Homo sapiens: one gene and its partners. The protein of the gene in region 3 purifies or fractionates together with the protein of the main gene of each other region. This does not show direct contact. Each region holds a gene or a part of one and is shown on either strand. Other genes may lie near its edges.

Region 1 (6,809 bases), on a different chromosome or scaffold from region 3:
AGCCAGGTGTGGTAGCTCATGCCTATAATCCCAGCACTGTGGGAGGCCAAGGCGGGCGGATCACCTGAAGTCAGGAGTTCAAGACTAGCCTGGTCAACAGGTTGGAACCCCATCTCCACTACAAATACAAAAATTAGCTGGGTTTGGTGGTGGGCGCCTGTAATCCCAGCGACTCGAGAGGCTGAGGCAGGAGAATTGCTTGAGCCCGGGAGGCAGAGGTTGTAGTGAGCCGAGATTGCTGCCACTCCACTCCAGCCTGGGGGACAGAGCAAGACCCCGGCTCACCAAAAACAAAACAACAACAACAACAAAAACCTTCTACTTGTCCAGGCATCCCTGGTCCCTCCAACCCAAAGGAACTTCAGTTTTAGCTCTGGACTCCCATAGCCTCCCAGTATGTCCCCTCTCACAGCATCAGTCACACTTGTGACTTGCTCCTCTGTCACCCCCTCTCCCTGCAAACTGTAGGCTGAGCAAGGGCAGGGCCTTAGCCTCACCCATCTGACTATCCAGCACCCAGCCCAGGGCCTGGCTGAAACCAGAGGCTTGGAAAATGCTTTCTGCAGGACTCAGACACCTGGCTCCCTTGCACTGGGCGTGGGGGTGGGCCCGTGAGGTTTTCCTGCCTCGGCACAGTTCTTTTCTCTGGATTACCCTTTCCTTCTCTCTCAGCCTACGCAACTCTGTTCTCATTCGGCAAGACAGCGCAAATGCCATCTTCCCCAGGAAGTCCTTCCTGAGCCGCCCGGTGCTGTGACCTCTCCCTCCTTGGAAATCTTAAAGCTCTGACTCCTTCAACCACTGACTTGCCACTTGCACATAAGCTCTCCAGCTTGATACCTTTAGGTTTGTTGGTTTGTTTTGTAGGATAATTTTTCTCTTCTGATGTTACATTCCCAATGAAATTTTGTTTTCCACTGAGGCGGGTGGCATTTACCAACATCTATCATCAGAGAAGGGCAGTTCCTCCAGAAAGTTGCATATCACACATGCTGCATGGCACATACATACACATAAAATTATTCCAGGCACACAGAGGAAAGATCGTGTGAGGACATAGCAAGAGGGCGGCCATCTACAAGCCAAGGAGAGAGGCCTCAGAGGAAAGCAGCCATGCCAACACCTTGATCTTAGACTTCCAGTCCCCAGCACTGTGAGAAAATAAATTCCATTGTTGAAGCCAAAAGAAAAAAAAATTCCATTTGTTCCCTGACTACTTTTTTATTTTTATTTTTTTTGAGACAGAGTCTCACTCCGTCGCCCAGGCTGGAGTGCAGTGGTGCAATCTTGGCTCACTGCAAGCTCCACCTCCCGGGTTCACGCCATTCTCCTGCCTCAGCCTCCTGAGTAGCTGGGACTACAGGCACCCACCACCATGTCCGGCTAATTTTTTGTATTTTTTAGTAGAGACGGGGTTTCACTGTGTTAGCCAGGATGGCCTCCCTGACTACTTTTAAAAAGGATTTAAAAATGGAATAAGGTGGCCGGGCACGGTGGCTCACACCTGTAATCCCAGCACTTTGGGAGGCTGAGGCGGGCGGATCACAAGGTCAGGAGAGCCAGACCATCCTGGCTAACAACGGTGAAACCCCGTCTCTACTAAAAATACAAAAAAAATTAGCCGGGCGTGGTGGCGGGCGCCTGTAGTCCCAGCTACTCGGGAAGCTGAGGCAGGAGAATGACGTGAACCCGGGAGGCGGAGCTTGCAGTGAGCCGAGATCGAGCCACTGAACTCCAGCCTGGGTGATGGAGCGAGGCTCCGTCTAAAATAAATAAATAAATAAATAAATAAATAAAAATGGAATAAGGTTTGTAATTTAGATAACGGTATTTTACCAACACCACCAATTTCCTGCTTTTGCTATTATACTGCAGATATATAAAATGTCACCATTGTGGGAAGCTGGGTGAAGGGTATATGGGACTCAATTTTGGTACTAATTTTGCAATTTCCTGTAAGTCTATAATTATTTAAAAATAACTTTTAAAGGCTTTGAGGCTGCTTAAACATCTAAAATTATATTAAATATAAAAACCAGTAATATCTATATTAGATAGGACGTAGAGACTTAGCAATAAGTGCACTTAGCAGTAAGTGCAAGCTTATTTATTAACAACTTTTTGATAATATTAAAAAAGATGGATAACAACCTCAGGGGATTGTTTTTGAGATTAGCAGTACCATCCACGTAATGGAATACTATGCAGATACTGGAAAGTGCCAAGTAGAAATGTATTTACTATTTTGGGAAACTTTTACCAATATTTTGGTGAGTTAAAAAATACCAACAGTGGCTCACGCCTATAATCCCATCACTTTGGGAAGCTGAGGTGGGCAGATCACTTGAGGTCAGGAGTTCAAGACCAGCCTGGTCAACATGGTGAAACCCCCGCCTCTACTAAAAATACAAAAATTAGCTGGGCACGGTGGTGCATGCTTGTAATCCCAATTACTTGGGAGGCCCAGGCAGGAGAATCGCTTGAACCTGGGAGGCAGAGGTTGCAGTGAGCCAAAATCACGACACTGCACTCCAGTCCGGGCAACAGAGCGAGACCCTGTCTCAAAACAAACAAACAAAAAAAAACAAATGATCTATCAAGTTTGGAAGAATATTCACCAAAATATTAAAAGTGATTGTCTTAGGTCAGTGGGATTGCAGATGGTTTTTTTCTTTTTTCTTTTTTTTTTTTTTTGAGACGGAGTCTTGCTCTGTCGCCCAGGCTGGAGTGCAGTGGTGTGATGTCGGCTCACTGCAAGCTCTGCCTCCCGGGTTCACGCCATTCTCCTGCCTCAGCCTCCTGAGTAGCTGGGACTACAGGCGCCTGCCACCACACCCGGCTAATATTTTGTGTTTTTAGTAGAGACGGGGTTTCACCATGTTAACCAGGATGGTCTCGATCTCCTGGCCTTGTGATCCGCCCGCCTCGGCCTCCCAAAGTGCTGGGATTACAGGTGTGAGCCACCATGCCCGGCCATTTTTTTTCTTTTTTTGAGACAGGGTCTGGATCTGTCGCCCAGGCTGGAGTGCAGTGCTGCAATTATAGCTCACTGTAACCTCAACCTCCTGGGCTCAAGCTATTCTCCTGCCTCAGGCTCCCGAGTAGCTGGGACTACAGGTATGAGCCACTGTGTCTGGCTCAAGGTCACTCATCTTAAGAATGGAGGGGTCCAAACTAGAGCTGTAAACCTAGTTTGGACAGAGAGAGACCCCTCTGTAATCCCAGCACTTTGGGAAGCCGAGGCGGGAGGATCTCTCGGGTCCATGATTTCGAGACCAGCCTGAGCAATAAAGTGAGACTCTCTCTACAAAAAATAAATAAGTAAATAATAAGTAATTAGCCGGGCGTAGTGCTGCGCACCTGTGGTCCCAGCTGCTTGGGAGGCTGAGGTGAGAGGATCACCTGAGCCTGGGAGGCGGAGGGTGCAGTGAGCCCAGATCTTCGAGCCACTGCACTCTAGCTTGAGCAACAGAGCAAGACCCTATTTCAAACAAACAAACAAAAAATGAGTGACCTTGAGCAAAACCCTGCCCCTCTTAGAACCTCAGATTTGCCGTCTTTACACAGAAGATGGACTTCAAACTCCCTACGACCTTGCCCGGCCCCCTCACGCTGAATTGGCTAGCGGGATGGTTTCCCAAGGGCTCTGCGGGAGACTGCAGCATAGCAGCGCCGCGGCTGCCGAGGGGTTAATACCGTTGGGCTCTTCCCCTTTTCTTGCCCCGCCCCACGGGCACCACCCCCGCCAGGGTTGTACCCTTGACCCCGCCTTCAGGCCTTGCGTCCACCGGAAGTACCCGCGCGCGGGCAGCTCACTTCCGCCCGGCAGGTGACAGCCGCGGGGCTCCGAGCCGCCGGCAGCCCGGACGCACCGGGAGAGCGAGAGGTGGAGGCCGCGGACATTTTGGTGCCAAGCCGAACCGAGCCGGGGCGCCGGGAGCTATTGGGACCTGCGGGTGAGGAAGCGGGGACCCGGGCGAGCCAGGAGAAGAAGTGGGGCGAGGGGTCAGGGGTCCTAGGTGAGGGGTTTGCGGGGTCAGAGGTCATGAAGAGGACGCGGCGCTGCAGGGGCGCGAGCGACGTCCCCAGCCAGAGGAGGAGGAAGGGCTGAGGGTTCGTTCATTCATTCGCGCCCACTTGGCCGCCGGCCTGTTCCTCGGCCGCCCCATACCCGCAGCACCTCCTGGGGCTTCCGCCCGGAGAGACAGGACTTAGGCCCCGAGGAATTCCCCACTGGCCTGAGGGAAAACTCTTCGGGCTCTGATTTCCTCTTTCGGACTCACCTCCATGGCCATCCTGAGGCCTCCTCGTTGTTCAGGGCGTTATCTCTTTGCCAAGGTTGAAAAAGAAGAAAGAAAAAAAAACTAGAAAACGGTCCCGTGCCGCCCGCCTCCGGCTAGGCACTGGCTTGGTCTTGTTTGTTGGAGCCTCTAAGACAAGTTAACTGAATGGAGACACCGGTGATAATGCTGCAAAATAACGAGGGAGATGCTTGCTAGTGGCTATCGAGTCCCTTCTGTGTACCGGGCACTGTGCTAAGCACTTTCCTTACAATGACACATTTAAACTTCACAGCAACCTTTGTGGGGATTAAATATCCCTATTTTATCGATGAGGACCCTGAGGCACAGAGAGGTTAAATCCCACATGTAAGGTCATTCGGGTAGTAGAGGCAAGGCCAGGTTTTCTGCCAGGCTGTCAGAGACCTGCAAAGTACAGAGACAAAGGAAAGACTGGAGTTAAGGTTGGGGTGTAGGGGATATTTAAGACTTTTAGCCAGACATGGTGGCTCACGCCTGTAATCCCAGCACTTTGGGAAGCTGAGGCGGGTGGATCGTGAGGTCAGGAGTTCAAGACCAGCCTGACCAACATGGTGAAACCCTGTCTCCAATAAAAATACAAAAATTAGCCAGACATGGTGGCGTACGCCTGTAATCCCAGCTACTTGGGAGGCTGAGGCAGGAGAATCGCTTGAACCCAGGAGGTGGAGGTTGCAGTGAGCCGAGATCGTGCGACTGCACTCCAGCCTGGGCCACGGAGTGAGACTCCGTCTCAAAAAAAAAAAAAAAAAAAAGATTTTTAGCTGCCGTTGTATTTATTTGGATTTATGTCACGATGTAGCCTTATTGCTTTTTGTCTGATCTTCATAAGGGGCATTCGACTTACTTTCTTTAGGATAAAACAATCCTACAGGCTGTTGCTATTAGTGATACCTTTCAGGGCAAGAGTCTAAGATTTTCCTGACTTTAGGGAACAGTGAGACACAAAACAGGCTATCCGTGAAAACTATTTGAAGATTGTCGAGAACTTCTCTTCAGAGTGGTTGAGCTGCATTCGTTTTGGTCTAAAAAGAGAGGAACCACATGACCTCTAGGGGATCTTTTGGTCCTAGGTTCTGGAAGAAGGTACCCAGAGGAAGAATCTTTGCCTTTCTGAGAAATATGCAGGCCCCATGGCTTCTTGCCAGAGCAGAGCACGTCTTACTTGGGAGGTGGTGAGACGGTTTGGTGGCTGGAGGACTAGGCTGTATGAATCTAAGCCTCATTCCATTGCGGATATTCACTTGCTTCAATTCTGCCTCAGTTTCCCTGACATCAACATGAGAAAGACCTGCCGCCTTCCTGTCTGCTCCTAGGGGTATGAACCTGTGAATGAACCCGTGAGGGCTTCCACATGGCTTCTGAAGAAAGCTGTATATAAATATTACTGTAATACCTTTTTTTTTTAAGCTGTGTGATCTATTCTCCTAGTTCCATTGAATTCACAGAAACTTAATATTGTCACCTTATATTCCCATCCTTCCAAGGGAGGATTTGAGATGAAGCAACTTGTCACAGAGGGTAGGAACATGAGCAGAGCTCAGAGCTTCTGGTTTTCTGTCCTGAGTTGAGCCCACCAGTCTCCTCTGACCTCTTAGAAACTGTCATGAGGAGCATCTTCAGTAGGTCTCAAAGAGTCAGATCCCTCAGAGATTGTGTGAAGATCATCTGTTGAGTGTAGGTCAGTGGAGGCTTCACCCTGAGCTGCTTCAAGAGCCCAGAGGTATGATGGAAAGATCACCAGACTCCCAGTCAGTCAGCCCTGGGTTCAACCCCAGCTCAGCAGCTTCCTGGCAGTGTGACCTGACCTGGACCGTTGACATAGGCTGGCCCTCCTTTACCTCAGTTCTAAAATAATACTGGCCACCCTTTCTGACTCCTCTACCCCTGGTTTGTGTGAGGGTTAGATGGGAAAATTTGTGCAGGGCCTGTGATTTTTGGGTGCTTTGACTCTAGGCAGACTGATGCCTGCTGGGGGCCTGTGTCTGAGGAAGGCTGCCAACCTTGGCTTCTGGAGCGTTACTTCCTTCTGCAAACAGAGACCTTAATGTACGCAGGACTTTTTCCACCCTTCTTGTTTCACTTCCTAAAAGTAGTTCAGAACAAGTTCAATTTGTTGGTCCTTCTGGCTTTGAGCTTGGGCTTGCATCTTTTTCTAGTCATCCTCTGAAACTCTTGCATGTCTTAACTACTTCCCAGGAACTTCCCGTGTCTGGCACCAAAGCCTGACATGCTGACAGTAAGCAAACATGGCTTGGGTTTTGCACTTCGCTGTGTTTCTGAAGGTTGAGGTGACATCTGTGCCTTGCAGACATTTCTTTTTCTCAGCAGGTCTTTTTGCCTAAGAGACATCGTTGATATTATCACAGCCCAGAAGTGATTTTTCTGTTCTTTATGTCTTCACATGGAGAGGAACAAATACTCCTGAGAAAAAATGTCAACAGAGCAGTTGGGGAATCCTTAAAGAAAATTCTGCTTGAAAATTCATCA
Region 2 (7,337 bases), on a different chromosome or scaffold from region 3:
CTCAGCCTCCTGAGTGGCTGGGACTACAGGCACATGCCAACAAGCCCAGGTAATCCTCAGGATTCTTGAAGGACTCCAACATGTTATCTGTCCATCCTTCAACCATCCAACAAAGTTCCCTGAGGCTCTACTATGTGCCAGGGCCAGCCTGGGCACTGGGGCAATAGCACTAAGACAGACTGTGTCCCTTCTTCATGGAGTTCACTGTCTAGAGGAGATGGAGAGGCAATTACACGGCCACTGCACAGTGACGAGTCATGTGAGGGGCACCCAGGGCTGATGGGGTCTCCAAGCAACACAGCTAACCAGTGCCCTCCCAGGCCCCACCTGGGCCAGCAAGTCATTCATGGTCTCACTGCTCTCCTCGTGGTTCCGGCCCAGGATCCGAAGCAGACGAAGTATCTGGACCTGAGGTTGGGTTGAAAATGGAAAGTTGGAGGGGTTCATAGGATAAGGAGTCGTGGGGCTGAGGAGAAAACTCCAACATGTGAGGGTCTGGCTCGCTCCCTAGAGCCTTCCCCCACCTCCTCACCTCCACAGGTCCCTTGGTCCTAGGAGGGGAACAGAGGTGTGTGAGGCCAGGGGAGTTTAGGACAGGCTTAAAAAAAAAATTGTTAACAAACTGTATTTTCCTGACTTTTAGGCATTCCCTCTCCCCTCACAGGTCCTGGGATGACCCGAGCAATCCTGTGCCTGCTACTCTGCTGCCCAGGACACTGAGAGAACCAGTGTTCTCTGGGAGGAAACCACTGGTCATGGTCTTACTGCTATGCCCTCTCTGATCCAGGGATACAGCAGTGAAAGGTCACCCCACCTGCAGGAAGGGGTCGCTGACTCCAGATATGCTGTGTTCTGTGGAGTATCCCATTGTCACCAGAGTCCGGAGGATGTGTACCAGCTGGGGTACCACCTGGAGGGAGGGCACAACTTTGGGCATTCGTTCTAATCCTCTCCAGCTAAAGCCCCATTCCTTCCCCACTGACCCTGTCTTCCAGGCCCAGGGCCTGCCCCTTCACCAGCCCACCTTTCGGAAGTGCCTGAGGGCTGCAGGGCTTCGTTCGCAGAGCTCCGTGATCAGCGTGATGGTGCCCAGCAGGATGCCTGGGGTCAGCGTCGGGGAAGTGAATGGTGGGGGCCAGGGGCAAGAGAGTCTATTGCGTGTGTGCCTGTGTGTGTGCACTACCCTTCTCCTGTGAGCTGGGGTTCCCATCCGATTTTCAATTCTTCTGTCCATAGACCTGAAGCAAAGGATGGGGGGCCCCACAGCCTTACCATGGTGACGCTCATGAAGCAGTTGGGCACAGGGTGGGAGGAAGACACTGGAGAGTTCAGGGACCTTCCGGATCATGTGCACTGCAGTCAGAATAGCCTGCAGAGGTCAGGGGCCTCAGACAGGGGTCAGAGGAGATGGACCCCTGCATCTACTACTATATAGCACGCAGCAGGCAGTGTGCAGGAGCACGTGCCAGGAGTCCCGCCATCTCACCTTCTTGCGCACGTAGGGACTGGGCTGCAGGAGCAGTTTCTCCACCTCTGGGGCCAGGTCTCGGCACATCTCAGCAGAGCCCATGGTGCTCAAAGTGCACAAGGCCAGGCCTTGTACTGGCTGAATCCCCTGGCTCAGGTCACTGCAGGGTTTGGGAGGACGGTCAGTCAAACCTCTGAGAAAATCAGTCCTTTTCAATACCCACAACAGGCAGTCCCCTGGGATTTCCAAGGTCCCTACTCTCCCATCTCCCTGATTCCAAGTGATTGCCAGAACCCTCTCACTTCTTGATGCTGTTGGTAATGAGCAGGTGGGCATCGTGCCTCTCATCCAATAGAAGCATGGCCCCCAGGTAGCCCACCCTCTTGTCTGTGAATCTGGAGGAGGCGATCAGTTTCAGGCACTCCATCTATAGTGAAGGGGGCAGACCAGGAAGAGGCAGGGGTGAAACCATAGACACTCACATCCCTGTTCCATCTTCCTCTTTAAAACCAGATTAACCTGTGGGGCATCATATCTCATCACTCTCCCTTCAACAAGAGGAGAAGCTTAGGAAATTCAGGCGTTAGTGGGTAGGAGGAACTAGGAGTTGAGGAGGATGGGAGCGGAGAGGAGGAGATGCCTGCCCTAAAGGAGGCTGGCCAGAGAATGAAGGGTTCAGGCCAGCTGATGACCAGTAGGGGTAGCAATGGGGAAAGAGGTTTGCAGTGCAGGCTGTGAAGACTCTGAAATTGTAGAATTTAAAAAACCAGGGCATAAACAGGTGAGAGAGTCTGGGACTCTGCCCCACTAGCCTTCATCAAGCTCAGGAGGGAGGTATTCCTGGCCAGTACCTGTCCAAAGTGGGCGGGGTAGCCCAACATGTGGACGTAGAGCAGTTTGGCCAGCTGCCGGTGCCTGTGCACTGGGTCCCCGTCGCGGAAGGAGGCCCGGATGTGGGCACACTCCTTTTGGATCACCTCCCGCTCCTGGGCCTGAGTCTTGGCCCCGCGAATCTCTTCGATGAGGTCCTGAAGCTTCAGCGAAGGCACCACCATCCTGACTGGCAGAGTCCGGGAGTGGAGAAACACTCTCTGGTCGGGCGTGCCTGGGCTTTCGGCCCAGGCCCGTCCTGTGTCAAGACCCTAAGAGCCCGGGTCCCACAGGTACCCTAAAATTGCGCCCGCATTTTACCTTTCCCGAAGTGGGTCTCCAAATTCCGCGCCCACCCCACCGCCCGAGAAGCCCACTACGCATGCGTCCGCACCCCACCGGCGCCCCTTCCTATTGAGCATGCGCGGGAGCCCCACCTATTTCTCTCTACCGTTTCCTCCCCCTACCTGGTACCCCATCCCTAGCTCAGCCATTGCTTTTTTTTCCACGACCCTCCGCTGTTTCTTCCGCGAGCTTCCTCCCCCGATTTCCATCTCAGGCAGCGGCAGCGGCAGCGACAGCCTGCCTACCCCAGGACTCCAGCCTCACCTGGCTTCTGCCTCAACTCCGCTCCTCTGCCCCCCAGCGCTTCCTGGTACGGGGCCGAGCAGGGGTTGGTGCTCCGTGCGGTCCTTCCCTCTCCCCGCCTCCACCACGGGACCCCGCCCTCCTGGGCCGACTGCAGAGCCTTCCTGAATCCTCTGACCTCGGGCCTCAGGCTTTAGCGGAGAGACAGCATGATAGGCCTGGAGTTCTTCAAGAGGCCTCCTCGCACATCCTTACCACCCGGAGAGCCTCAGTTTGGATTTGAAGCCATCGCACCCCAAAGGAGATGACAATCCCCCCCCTTTTTTGAACTTTTTTATTAATATATTTTTTTTGTTAAATTTCTTTGTATTTTTTTCCTGCAAGACTTGGTGTTGGCGGCACTGTTGTAGTTTAACTTCAATCCCAAATTCCATGAAATAGAAATCAGAAGTAAAGGTTGAGAGGGGAGGAAGGAGGGAGGCAAGCCAAGGAATAAACAAGAGTTTGACTAGAAAAAAAGAAGAGGGTATGTGTGGTGGGCATTCCTGGGCAAGGCCATTCCTTGAGGGAGGGGGTTGGCAGGCAGCTTGCCTCTGCCTCATGCAGGGGAGGGAGGAAAGATCCCCTGGGGACCCTGCAGTCCCCTCTTCCTAGGGCTTCCTGCTCCCAGGGGAAAAACTAATACCAGAGAGGGATCAGCCACAACCTCAAACAGGGCTCTCCACCCACCTGTCACCCGGGTTTGACTCCCACCTCTGCCCTGCCTGGGAAGCATGTGAGATCAGCTATCTTTGATCCCCTCCTTCTGTTGTTTTCCCATTTCACAAGATTCTGATGTAAAGGGGGAAGGGATATAACCCATTTTGGGACTACTAAACTTGTCACAGCTTCTGCTTCCATGTGAGCTCCTGTTATCTTGTCTGGTCCTATCCCCCAGAAGTGCCTCCTCCCACCACAACTCCCAGAGTTGGGATGTGGGGGCCTTGCTCAAGTGCCTCTAACCCTCTGCAGTAGAAATGTCTTCTTCAGGCCCCTTAGGAATTTAATCAAAGGCCACAAGTGAGTCCAGACCAACCAAATAAACTATTATGGGGGAGACAGAAGGGTGGGAGAAGTCAGTGGCAAAGTCTGGGCAGGGTGGACTTGACTGCATTGGATATTCTCTGTTCCTTTACACGTTGCTCTTGGCATGGCATGCCACCAGAGGGGGCTGGAGGAGGGGCTGGCCGATGAGGAGAAAAAGAGGGAAATGCTGGGGAGTTACTCTACTTTTCACTTCCCTTCTCTCCTTCAGGGAAGGATGGAATTGGGCAGTAACCCAGCTCAGTGCTTGGAGGTAAGATAATAGCCTCCAAGATTAGAGGTGGAGGATGCACCTCCTGCAGCTTTTTCACTAGGCCTCAGAGGGACAGCAGGCCCCTTAGGCTAGGGAGCCACAGCAGCTCAGCCAGTGCCTTGCCCGACATTCAATCACTCCTTCTTCATTTTCTTCCTCCTCTCCATTCAGCTTCCAGGAGTCTCCTTAGGACACCAAACCCCCACCCGCAGCGAAGTTGAGGTCTAAAGAAAAGGTGGGAGGGCGTGGAGCAATGGTCTGACTTAGATTTGTGTGTCTCAGAGAAGACAGCAACTCTGAGAGAGAAAAGCCCTTCATATGTAAACAATCTAGAGAAAGAAGGGGTTGGGATGGGGAAGGGAGTGAGGAATACAGAGACAGATCCAGAAGAAATGAGATAATCTGAAAGAAGACAGGGAAAGAAAAAGCGAGAGAAAAAAACAAAGGAGCACAGAAAAGAAAGGAAGAAGAGAAAGAAAGATAGGAGAAAACACAGCCAGGAAGAGGAGAAGAGAAAAAAGGCAGGTCAAAGGGGTGAAGAGGCACGCAACCAAAGCCAGAACCAGGCCAGGAAGTAGCCTCAGGTGAGGAGCTGGGAGAACAGGAATGCCAGGCTGAGGTCCAGGAGGGCCACGGCTCCCACCACCAGGGGGTTGGCAGCTCCCTAGAGAGACAGAGGGGGAAGCAGACTCAGTCCCCGAGGACAGGGCCCACCTTCCTGCCCTGACTGAGGTGGCAGAGCTGAAGGGTCTCAGGCACCTCCCTGCACAGCCTGGAGCAGGGGGATCGCCAACATTTGTTTTGGATTGCAAAACCCCCTCTTCTCCCAGGCAGGGCCCCACCTTTCCTCTGACACCTTCAATGCAGGGACAGCCCTTCCACCTCCTCCCTCTAGTCCCCTCCCATCAGCATATCATGTGTCCCAGGCAGGAGGTGCCTGGCCTTAGTAGCAGACATTGGCAGCAGCAGCCAGTACTGCAGTAAGGCAGAGGGATGAAGGGGTGAGGATGTGGTTGCTAGGAAACAGAAGGCCTAGAGCCCAATCAGAGTAGAGGGTTCTGGGCAAACTCCGCCTCTCCCGGTTTTCTGCCTTCTTCTCTATTTCAACTTCTTCCCGGGAGAGGGAGGGAGAGTCAGGGTAGGGAGGGAACAATCTTTTCCTTTTTTATTTCTGGGCACCAAAGAGAGAAAGTGCGGAGGTGGGGGTGGGGGTGGAGTAGGAAACTGAGAGCTGGAAATGATATGGAAGGAGAACGGGGGAAAAATGTTCTGGCTCTCCCATTAATTATTAGTTTACAACCCTGGGCAAGTTACTTTTTTTTTTTTTTTTTTTTTTGAGACAGAGTCTCGCTCTGTCACCCAGGCTAGAGTGCAGTGGCGCGATCTCAGCTCACTGCAGGCTCCGCCTCCCGGGTTCACGCCATTCTCCTGCCTCAGCCTCCCAAGTAGCTGGGACTACAGGCGCCCGCCACCACGCCCGGCTAAATTTTTTTTGTATTTTTAGTAGAGACGGGGTTTCACTGTATTAGCCAGGATGGTCTCGATCTCCTGACCTCGTGATCCGCCCACTTCGGCCTCCCAAAGTGTTGGGATTACAGGCGTGAGCCACCGCGCCCGGCCTGGGCAAGTTACTTTAAGTGCTCTGGGCCTCAGTTCCCCCATCTGTCAAATGAGGGAGTTGGGCTTGCAGGTGTGTAAGGTTCCTTCCAGCTCGAACGCCCTCTATTTTTTTGAGGTGGGATGTGGTCCAAGACTGGCCAGGCAGAGGAAGCCGAGTGAGATAAAAAGCCCCCCCGGTGATCAGACAGTTCTGGAAAGGGTGGGAGGCAAGGCTTTGGGAGAAGAGGGCACACAGCAGGGACAGAGGATCTCACCGGCTGGGCAGGCCTCTCGGTTGCAGCGGGCTCCCCGAGCTCTTCTGTCAGGCACCCAGCATCAGGACCCCTCGAGGACGAGCCCCTCAGGACCAGCATGGCGATGGGCTCAGGCTCCGTGCCTGCTGGGGCCCTCAGCGGGGGCAGGGGCTCTTCATCCTCCCCCTCCTCCTCTCGAAGACTTCCTGAACTGTCGCTGCAGCCTCCGAGGAGTGGGGAACCGTCTCTGGGCCCTGGCCCTTGCATCCCAGCCTCATCCTCAGCCTCATAGCCAGCTAGTTCCTCTGCCTGTGCGCCTGCCCCCCCCCACTCCTCAGGCCAAGCTTTGGGGCTGGAGAAGGGACCCTGGTCCCCTCCAGGAGGCAGTGGGCTCCGGCAGGCAGGGGGTCGCCAGGGTTGGCGGGAGGAGGCAGGACTGCTGGGCAGTTCAGGGGATCCCTCTGAGGGGGTCAGTCCGTTCTCATATACCCCAGGGCTGTCCTCATCCAGGGGCTCCGTGTCGGAACCTTCTGAGTCCTGCCTGGGTCTGCGGCCTGGGTAGGGATAGCTGAGAATCAGAGGGGCCTAACTGGCCTTGGGCTGGAGTGGCTGCAGCTTTATTCCTGACTGGGCACTTCCCAGGACTTTGGAATTCCCAGGCTCATAGCCTCTCACCGCCAGACCCCAAACCCCCCATTATCCTACTGCATACATTCCCAAGTCCCACTCCCCAGACTACCAGGTCTGGCCCCCACCCTGTGTTCCTTGCACCCTCATTCCTTGTTTTTTCCCATCCCCACTTCCCTTGCAGGGCTTCTCATCTGTTTCCCCACACCTGAGCCTCTCTAGCTCCCTAGGGGCCTCACTGCCCTCCCCCCAGCTGTCCATGCCTCACCTGGGGCCTCTAGCATGGGCTGCAGGTCCTGGGCTATCAGTTTGGCCATTCGAGCTGCCTCCACGGCCTTCTCAGCGACACTGCTGGCTGCCACTGCCTTTAGGAGGGCGTCTGCTGCCCTGTCGGGTCCAGAGACAGGGATTTAGCAGAACTTCCCCCACTTCAAGTTAGTCCCTGCTCAGATGCTCCAGCCCCCTAGCCCCTGTCCCCTCTACATCACATCCTCCTCTCCTCTGGAGTCGTCACCCTTCGCCACACTCTGCCAGCTGCTTCCCTTCCTGGCAGGCCAGGGCAGCTCCCGTTTGGTTTCCTCCCCCTGACCTGGGC
Region 3 (8,012 bases):
GACGCAGTGGCTCACGCCTGTGATCCCAGCATTTTGGGAGGCCGAGGCGGGTGGATCATGAGGTCAAGAGATCGAGACCATCCTGGCCAACATGGTGAAACCCCGTCTTTACTAAAAATACAAAAAATTAGCCGGGCGTGATGGCGTGTATCTATAGTCCCAGCTACTCGGGGTGCTGAGGCAGGAGGATCACTTGAACCTGGGAGGCGGAGATTGCAGTGAGCCGAGATCGTGCCACTGCACTCCAGCCTGGCGACAGAGCAAGACTCCATCTCAAAAGAAGAAAGAGAGAAAGAAAGAAAGAAAGAAAGTAAAGAAGGAAGGGAGGAAGGGAAGGAGGGAGGGTAGGAGGGAAGGAAGGAAGGAAGGAAGGAAGGTAGGCAGGCAGGCTGGCTACTAAAAAAAGAGTAGATGTTTACTAACTTATTAGTTCTTGCCACAACCCTGTGGGGTAGATGTTATCATCATCTCCATTTCACACAGGAGAAGTGAGGTTAGAAACCATGTCCACTGGAAGCATATGGAAACTGGGGATTGATCTAAGGCATCCTGGGTCCAGAATCCCTGCTGTTGCCCCAGACTTCATTTGCACCAAAGTGGGATTATTTAAAAAAACAACAACAACAAAAAAAAAAAACAAAGAAGAGGCCAGGTGCAATGACTCACTCATGAAGACCAAGGCAGGAGGATCCCTTGAGGCCAGGAGTTTGAGACCAGCTTTGGCAACATAGCGGGATCCCTCTACAAAAAATTTCAAGAATTAGCTGAGCATGGTGGCCTGCACCTCTGTAGTCACAGCTACTCTGGAGGCTAAGGCAGAAGAATCAATTGAGCCTAGGAGGTCGAGACTACAGTGAGCTGTGGTCATACTACTGCACTCCAGCCCGAGCAACAGAGTGAGACCCTGTCAAAAAAAGAAAGAAGAAAAGAAAGAAAGAAAGAAGGAAAGAAGGAAAGAAGGAAAGAAAGAAAGAAGAAAAAAAGAAAGAAAGAAAGAAAGAAAGAAAGAAAGAAAGAAAGAAAGAAAGAAAGAAAGAAAGAAAGAAAGAAAGATGACAGTTCATATGATTGTGCCTGGTAGTCAGGAAGACACCCATAATAGTAAACACTTCTGTCTGGACACGGTGGCTCACGCCTTTAATCCCAGCACTTTGGGAGGCTAAGGCGGGTGGATCATGAGGTCAAGAGTTCGAGACCATCCAGGCCAACATGATGAAACCCCGTCTCTACTAAAAATACAAAAATTAGCTTGGTGTGCTGGCGCATGACCGTAATCCCAGCTACTCAGGAGGCTAAGGCATGAGAATCACTTGAACCCAGGAGGTGAAGGTTGCTGTGAGCTGAGATCACACCAGCCTGGTGACAGAGCGAGACTCCATCTCCAAAAAAAAAAAAAATTAGTTAACCACTTCCTAAGGTTGTTTTGTCCAGTGTCTGAACAGGGAGGACCCATGGCAGGTTCTCAAACATCTTAGCTCTCACTATTAATATTAATGGGAATATTATTTTCACCACCACTCTTATTTTGGCTATTAAATGACAAGACAGGCTGACTGCAGTGGCTCACACCTGTCATCCGAACACTTTGGGAGGCTGAAGCAGGGGGATAGCTGGGGACCAGGAGTTCAAGACCATCCTGGACAACATAGCAAGACTCCATCTGTACAAAAAAATAAAAATAAAAAATAGGCCGGGTGCGGCCGGGCGCAGTGGCTCATGTCTGTAATCCCAGCACTTTGGGAGGCCGAGGTGGGCGGATCACGAGGTCAAGAGATTGAGACCATCCTGCCCAACATGGTGAAACCCCATCTCTACTAAAGATACAAAAAATTAGCCGGGCGTGATGGTGCGCGCCTGTAATCCCAGCTACTCAGGAGGCTGAGGAAGGAGAATCACTTGAACCTGGGAGGTGGAGGTTGCAGTGAGCCAAGATCATGCCATTGCACTCCAGCCTGGGTGACAAGGCGAGACTCTGTCTTGAAAAAAAAAAAAAATACAAAAATTAGCCAGGCATGGTGGCATGCACCTGTAGTCCCAGCTACTCGGGAGGCTGAGGCAGGAGAATTGCTTCAACCCGGGAGGTGGAGGTTGCAGTGAGCCAAGATGGAGCCACTGCACTCCAGCCTGGGTGACAGAGCAAGACTCTATTTAAAAAAAAAAAAAAAAAAAAATTAAAAATAGCCGGGCATGGAGGGGTCAGCCCGCAGCCCCAGATATTCAGGAGTTTGAGAGCAGCTTTGGCAACATAGCGGGATCCCTCTACAAAAAAATGTCAAGAATTAGCCAGGCATGGTGGCCTGCACCTGTGTAGTCACAGCTACTCCGGAGACTGAGGCAGGAGGATCGCTTGAGCCCAGGAATTCCAGGCTGCAGTGAGCTATGATCGCACCACTGCACTCAAGCCTGGGAGACAGCAAGAGACCCTGTCTCCAAAATAAAAAAAGACAAGAGGAATAAAAGGACTTCAGGAAGAGGCAAGGCAGCCACAGATGGGGGGAGTTAGAGGCCCCTGTTCCAGTTGCCTTCCCCAGGTATTAACACTGTGGATGCCGACAGTGATGGAGATAATTTCAATTTGCTGAGTCCCTAATATTTCCAGAAAGGCCACTATGCTAAGTAGTTTACACGCAGCGAGTTGTATTAATTCTCATTGGGTGGGGACCTCTGTTGCTCCCATTTTTACATACAGAGAAACTGAGGCCCTAGGAGGCGAACCCCTTGGCCTCAGGCACAAGGCGAGTGGATGCTGGAGGTGGGATTCCCAGGGATTGCAGGGGGAGGGGGTGTTCCCAGACCTCTTCCTGGCCCGCGCGGAGGGGTCGCCCCTGAATCCCTGGGAGCGAGACCTCACCTGTCCGTCTCCCAACTCCTCATGCCCAGCCTCACCTTGCCCTTAACGTCCAGAATGAAGACAGCCGAGGCGGACATGGTGGCGGCCGAAGGACTTAGGAGTCGGGGAGGGAGCGCCGGGAGGCGATGGCGGCGCCGCTTCCTTCTTCCTGCGGAAGCGCCTGCGCCCAGGTGAGAGCCCAGGTGTGTGCGTCTTAAAGGGGAGGCGGCCAGGTGAGCAGCGCTGTCGGCCAACTTGAAGATGGCTGCGGGGCCGGGAGAGGTACTGCGACTTCAGATGGGTCTGCTGCCCCCCTTCACTTTCCCTAGCCACCCAGGAGTAATGACGGGTGGAGACCCCAAACCAATCAACCATCCTTCCATCCATTCATTCATCCTTCCTTTCATTCATCTATCCATCCATTCGTCCATCCATCCATTCATTCTTGCATTCATTAATCCATCCACGCATCCACTCATTTAGCCATTCATTAATCCATCTTCCATCGATTCATTGATCCATCCTTCCATTCGTCATCCATTTCTTCATCCATTTTTGCATTCATTTATTTGTTCGTCTATCCATTATCCATTCATCCATCCATTTATTCATCCATTCATTCATCCCTTCTTGCATTCATTCATTTATTCATCTTTCCATTCATCCATCCATTCATCCATTCTAACATTCATCAATTTATTCATCTATCCATCCATCCATCCATCCGTTCATCCATTCTTGCATCATTAATTTATTCATCTATCCATTCATCAATCCATCCATCCATCCATTCTTGCATTCATTAATTTATTCATCTATCCATTCATCCACCCATCTATCCATTCATTCATCCTCTCATTGATTCATCCATCCATTCACCTTCTTTCTCCTCTGTCTCACCCACACACGTCAGCCCCCATACAGCAGGGACTTTGTCTTGTTCATGTTTATGTCCCTAGTGCTCAGCACTGGGTGCTCAAAATTTGCCCAATTCATTCATTCACTCATTCATATAATAATTTTCACTGGTGAATTTTACTGACTGAATTTGAAATATTCATTCACTCAGTAACAGGAACTGTGGATATAATTCCGAGCAGGACAAATGTACTTGCTTTTATTATTCTTACAAATTTACTCTTATTCATTTCAAATAAAAAATTTATTTTTTTTTGTTTTTTGAAATGGAGTCTCACTCTGTTGCCCATGCTGGAGTGCAGTGGAATGATTTTGGCTCACTGCAACCTCCACCTCCCAGGTTCAAGCAATCCTCCTGCCTCAGCACCCCTAGTAGCTGGGATTACAGGCAAGCGCCACCATGCCCAGCTAATTTTTTTTTTTTTTTAGACTCCAGGCTGGAGTGCAGTGGCATGATCTCTACTCACTACAACCTCCGCTTCCCGGGTTCAAGGGATTCTGCTGCCTCAGCCTCCCAAGTAGCTGGGATTACAGGTATGCGCCATCACGCCTGGCTAATTTTGTATTTTTAATAGAGATGGGGTTTCACCATGTTGGCCAGGCTGGTCTCGAACTCCCGACCTCAGGTGATCCACCCGCCTCAGCGTCCCAAAGGGCTGAGATTACAGGCGTGAGCCACCGCACCCAGCCAAAAAACTTTTTTTGTAGAGACAGGGTCTCACTCTGTACCCTAGACTGGACTGCAGTGATGCAATCATGGCTCACTACAGCCTCAACTTCCTGGGCTCAAGCCATCCTCCTGCCTCAGCCTCCCTAGTAACTGGAACTACAGGCACAAACCGCCACACCCAGCTAATTTTTTTTGAGACAGAATTTTGCTCTAGTTTACCAGGCTAGAGTGCAGTGATGTGATCTCGGCTCGCTGAAACCTATGCCTCCTAGGTTCAAGCAATTCTCCTGCCTCAGCCTCCCGAGTAGCTGAGATTACAGGCATGCGCCACCATGCCCGGCTACTTTTTTTGTATTTTTAGTAGAGACAGGGTTTCTCCATGTTGGTCAGGCTGGTCTTGAACTCACGACCTCAGGTGATCCACCCGCCTTGGCCTCCCAAATTGCTAGGATGACAGATGTGAGCCACTGCGCCTGGCCACAACTAGCTAATTTTTTTTTTTTTTTTTAATTTGGAGTCTCGTCCTGTTGCCCAGGCTGGAGTGCAATGGCACAATCTCGGCTCACTGCAACCTCTGCCTCCCAGGCTCAAGCGATTCTGCTGCCTCAGCCTCCCAAGTAACTGGGATTACAGGCGTGCACCACCAAGCCCAGCTAATTTTTTGTATCTTTAGTAGAGATGGGGTTTCACCATGTTGGCCAGGCTGGTCTCGAACTCCTGACCTCGTGATCCATCTGCCTTGGCCTCCCAAAATGCTGGGATTACAGGCGTGAGCCACTGCGCCTGGCCCACACCTAGCTGATTTTTTTTTTTTTTTTTGAGACAGAGTCTGGCTTTGTCGCCCAGGATGGAGTGCAGTGGCGCAATCTCTGCTCACTGCAACCTCTGCCTCCCAGCTTCAAGCAATTCTCTGCCTCAGACTCCCAAGTAGCTGGGATTACAGGCGCCTGCCACCACGCCCGGCTAATTTTTTTTTTGTATTTTTAGTAGAGACGGGGGTTTCACCATCTTGGCCAGGCTGGTCTTGAACTCCTGACCTCGTGATCCACCCGCCTCAGCCTCCCAAAATGCTGGGATGACAGGTGTGAGCCACCGCGCCAGGCCAGGCCCACCTAGCTAATTTTTTTTTTTCTTTGAGATGGAGTCTCGCTCTGTTACCCAGGCTGGAGTGCAATGGCGCGATCTCAACTCACTGCAAGCTCCGCCTCCCAGGTTCACACCATTCTCCTGCCTCAGCCTCCCGAGTGGCTGGGACTACAGGCGCCTGCCAACACGCCTGGCTAACTTTTTGTACTTTTAGTAAAGACAGGGTTTCACCATGTTAGCCAGGATGGTCTGGATCTCCTGACCTCGTGATCCGCCCGCTTCGGCCTCCCAAAGTGCTGGGACTACAGGTGTAAGCCACCGCACCCGGCCCGACCTAGCTAATTTTTACATTTTTTGTAGAGATGGTGTATCGGTATGTTGCCCAGGCTGGTCTCAAACTCCTGGGCTCAAGCGATCCTCCCCCCTTGGCCCTCCAAAGTACTGGGATTACAGGCGTAGTCTGAGCCACTGTGCCTGGTTTGTGCAGATTAAATGAGTTATTCTGTGCAACGTGGTGTTGGAAGGGAACTTGGATGTAGCTGACTGTCAACCATGTCGCTGAGAAGGAGGAGGATGAAGATGATGATCTGGATGATGATGTAGCAGTTGAGAGCACAGATGCTGGGTTTGATTTTTGATACCACCACACACTGGCTATAAGGCATGGGCTGGTGAATGCACCTGCTGTGCCTCAGTCTCCTCTTATGTTAAATGGGTATAACAGCCATGGTGCCCTCTCCTGCAGTTGCATAGCCAAATACCTGGCATGGCCCCTGGCTCCATGCATGTTTCGTGCACACCAGCTGCTGCAGACCCAGATTCCACCCCTGGACTTTCCTTTTTTTTTTCTTTTGAAATGGAGTCTCAGTCTGTCGCCAGGCTGGAGTGCAGTGGTGCGATCTCAGCTCACTGCAACCTCTGTCTCCTGGGTTCAAGCGATTCTCCTGCCTCAGCCTCCCAAGTAGCTGGGACTACAGGTGCACTCCACCATGCCCAGCTAATTTTTGTATTTTTATTAGAGATGGGGTTTCACCATGTTGACCAGGATGCTGTCGAACTCTTGACCTCGTGATCCGCCCACCTCAGCCTCCCAAAGTGCGGTAGTTTTGAGGACAGGGCAGAAGGAAAGGGAAAGTAAACCTCAGCCTTGCTTAGAACCACCTTGCTTGGCTGAGGGAGGGAGATGTCCTGCAGGGCCTGCAGGGAACAAGACTCAGCCTACCCAGACCTCACTTGTCCTTTCCCCAAACCCTGCCCAGCCCTTTATCAGCCCCTGTAGGTGGGGACTTAGAGAACAGCAGCTATCAGGATCATCCACTTGCCTCTCCACCTGAAATTAACATCAACATTGACAGCAGCACTGCACTTTAATTAAAACATTATCATCTGGGCCAGGAGCAATGTTTCATGCCTGTATCCCAGCACTTTGGGAGGCCAAGGTGGACAGAGCACCTGAGGCCAGGAGTTTGAGACCAGCCTGGCCAACATGGCGAAACCCTGTCTCCACTAAAAATACAAAAATTAGCCGGGCGTGGTGACGCATGCCTGTAATTCCAGCTACTTGGGAGGCTGAGGCAGAAGAATCACTTGAACTGGGGAGGCGGAGGTTATAGTGAGCCGAGATGGCACCACTGCACTCCAGCCTGGGTGACAGAGTGAGACTCCGTCTCAAGAAAATAAATAAATAGAATGAAAAATAAAAAGTTATCATCTGGCACAAGTCTCCTTCGTGCCATCTTATAAAGGTAGAAGCAGGGACACAGAGAAGTGAAGGCACCTGCCCAAGCCCACGGCCCCAGAGCCAGGAGGCAGTTGACCCAGAATTCGAATCTGAGTCCCGGGATTTAAGAATCTGGTCCCAGCCTGCTTCCGCCTGCTTTGCTATATTGCTGGATGCAAATATTACTATTAGTAACACTAACTCTGGCTTAAATGGTGCTCACCATAAGTGAGGGTGGCCCTAAATGTCGCCCATGCAGGAATCCTCAAGACAGCCCCTTGAATTACAGAAGCCTATTTTTTTTTTTTATTTATTTGAGACAAGGACTTGCTTTGTCGCCCAGGCTGCGGTGCAGTGGTGCAAACACGGCTCACTGCAGCCTCAACCTTCTGAACTCAAGAGATCCTCTCACCTAGGCCTCTCCAGTAGCTGGGACTACAGGTGAGCAACACCACTCCCAGCTAATTTTTAAATTTTTTTTTTTTTTTTTTTTGAGACAGAGTCTTGCTCTGTCGCCCAGGCTGGAGTGCAGTGGCGCAATCTCGGCTCACTGCAACTTCCGCCTCACAGGTTCACACCCTTCTCCTGCCTCAGCCTCCGGAGTAGCTGGGACTACAGGCATCCGCCATCAAGCCCGGCTAATTTTTTTGTATTTTTAGTAGAGACGGGGTTTCACCGTGTTAGCCAAGATGGTCTCGATCTCCTGACCTCGTGATCCGCACACCTCAGCCTCTCAAAGTGCTGGGATTACAGGCGTGAGCCACCGTGCCTGCCCAATTTTTAAATTT

What was found.
Region 1: the proteins of AP1M2 (region 3) and AP1B1 purify together in Homo sapiens (affinity purification with mass spectrometry; 5 studies listed by BioGRID and IntAct, with this or other methods). This does not show direct contact.
Region 2: the proteins of AP1M2 (region 3) and AP1G2 purify together in Homo sapiens (affinity purification with mass spectrometry; 4 studies listed by BioGRID and IntAct, with this or other methods). This does not show direct contact.

The regions. Positions count from the first base shown.
Region 1 is NC_000022.11:29,385,571-29,392,379, reverse strand, and holds the start of AP1B1 (AP-1 complex subunit beta-1), read left to right. Parts: upstream 1-3,809; 5' UTR 3,810-3,956; intron 3,957-4,283; exon of another isoform or gene 4,284-4,471; intron 4,472-6,809. UniProt on the Homo sapiens protein: Subunit of clathrin-associated adaptor protein complex 1 that plays a role in protein sorting in the late-Golgi/trans-Golgi network (TGN) and/or endosomes.
Region 2 is NC_000014.9:23,564,792-23,572,128, forward strand, and holds the start of AP1G2 (AP-1 complex subunit gamma-like 2), read right to left. Parts: upstream 3,001-7,337; 5' UTR 2,948-3,000; exon of another isoform or gene 2,761-2,947; coding exon of another isoform or gene 2,660-2,760; exon of another isoform or gene 2,529-2,659; 5' UTR 2,525-2,528; coding exon of another isoform or gene 2,524-2,524; coding exon 2,320-2,523; exon of another isoform or gene 1,896-2,319; coding exon 1,771-1,895; coding exon of another isoform or gene 1,629-1,770; coding exon 1,487-1,628; exon of another isoform or gene 1,370-1,486; coding exon 1,273-1,369; coding exon of another isoform or gene 1,102-1,272; coding exon 1,025-1,101; exon of another isoform or gene 911-1,024; coding exon 815-910; exon of another isoform or gene 665-814; intron 409-664; coding exon 328-408; intron 50-327; exon of another isoform or gene 1-49. Other genes in the region: JPH4 (junctophilin-4), read right to left, coding at 4,843-4,926, 6,137-6,669, 7,011-7,129.
Region 3 is NC_000019.10:10,584,304-10,592,315, forward strand, and holds the start of AP1M2 (AP-1 complex subunit mu-2), read right to left. Parts: upstream 3,010-8,012; 5' UTR 2,929-3,009; coding exon 2,887-2,928; exon of another isoform or gene 2,852-2,886; intron 1-2,851. UniProt on the Homo sapiens protein: Subunit of clathrin-associated adaptor protein complex 1 that plays a role in protein sorting in the trans-Golgi network (TGN) and endosomes.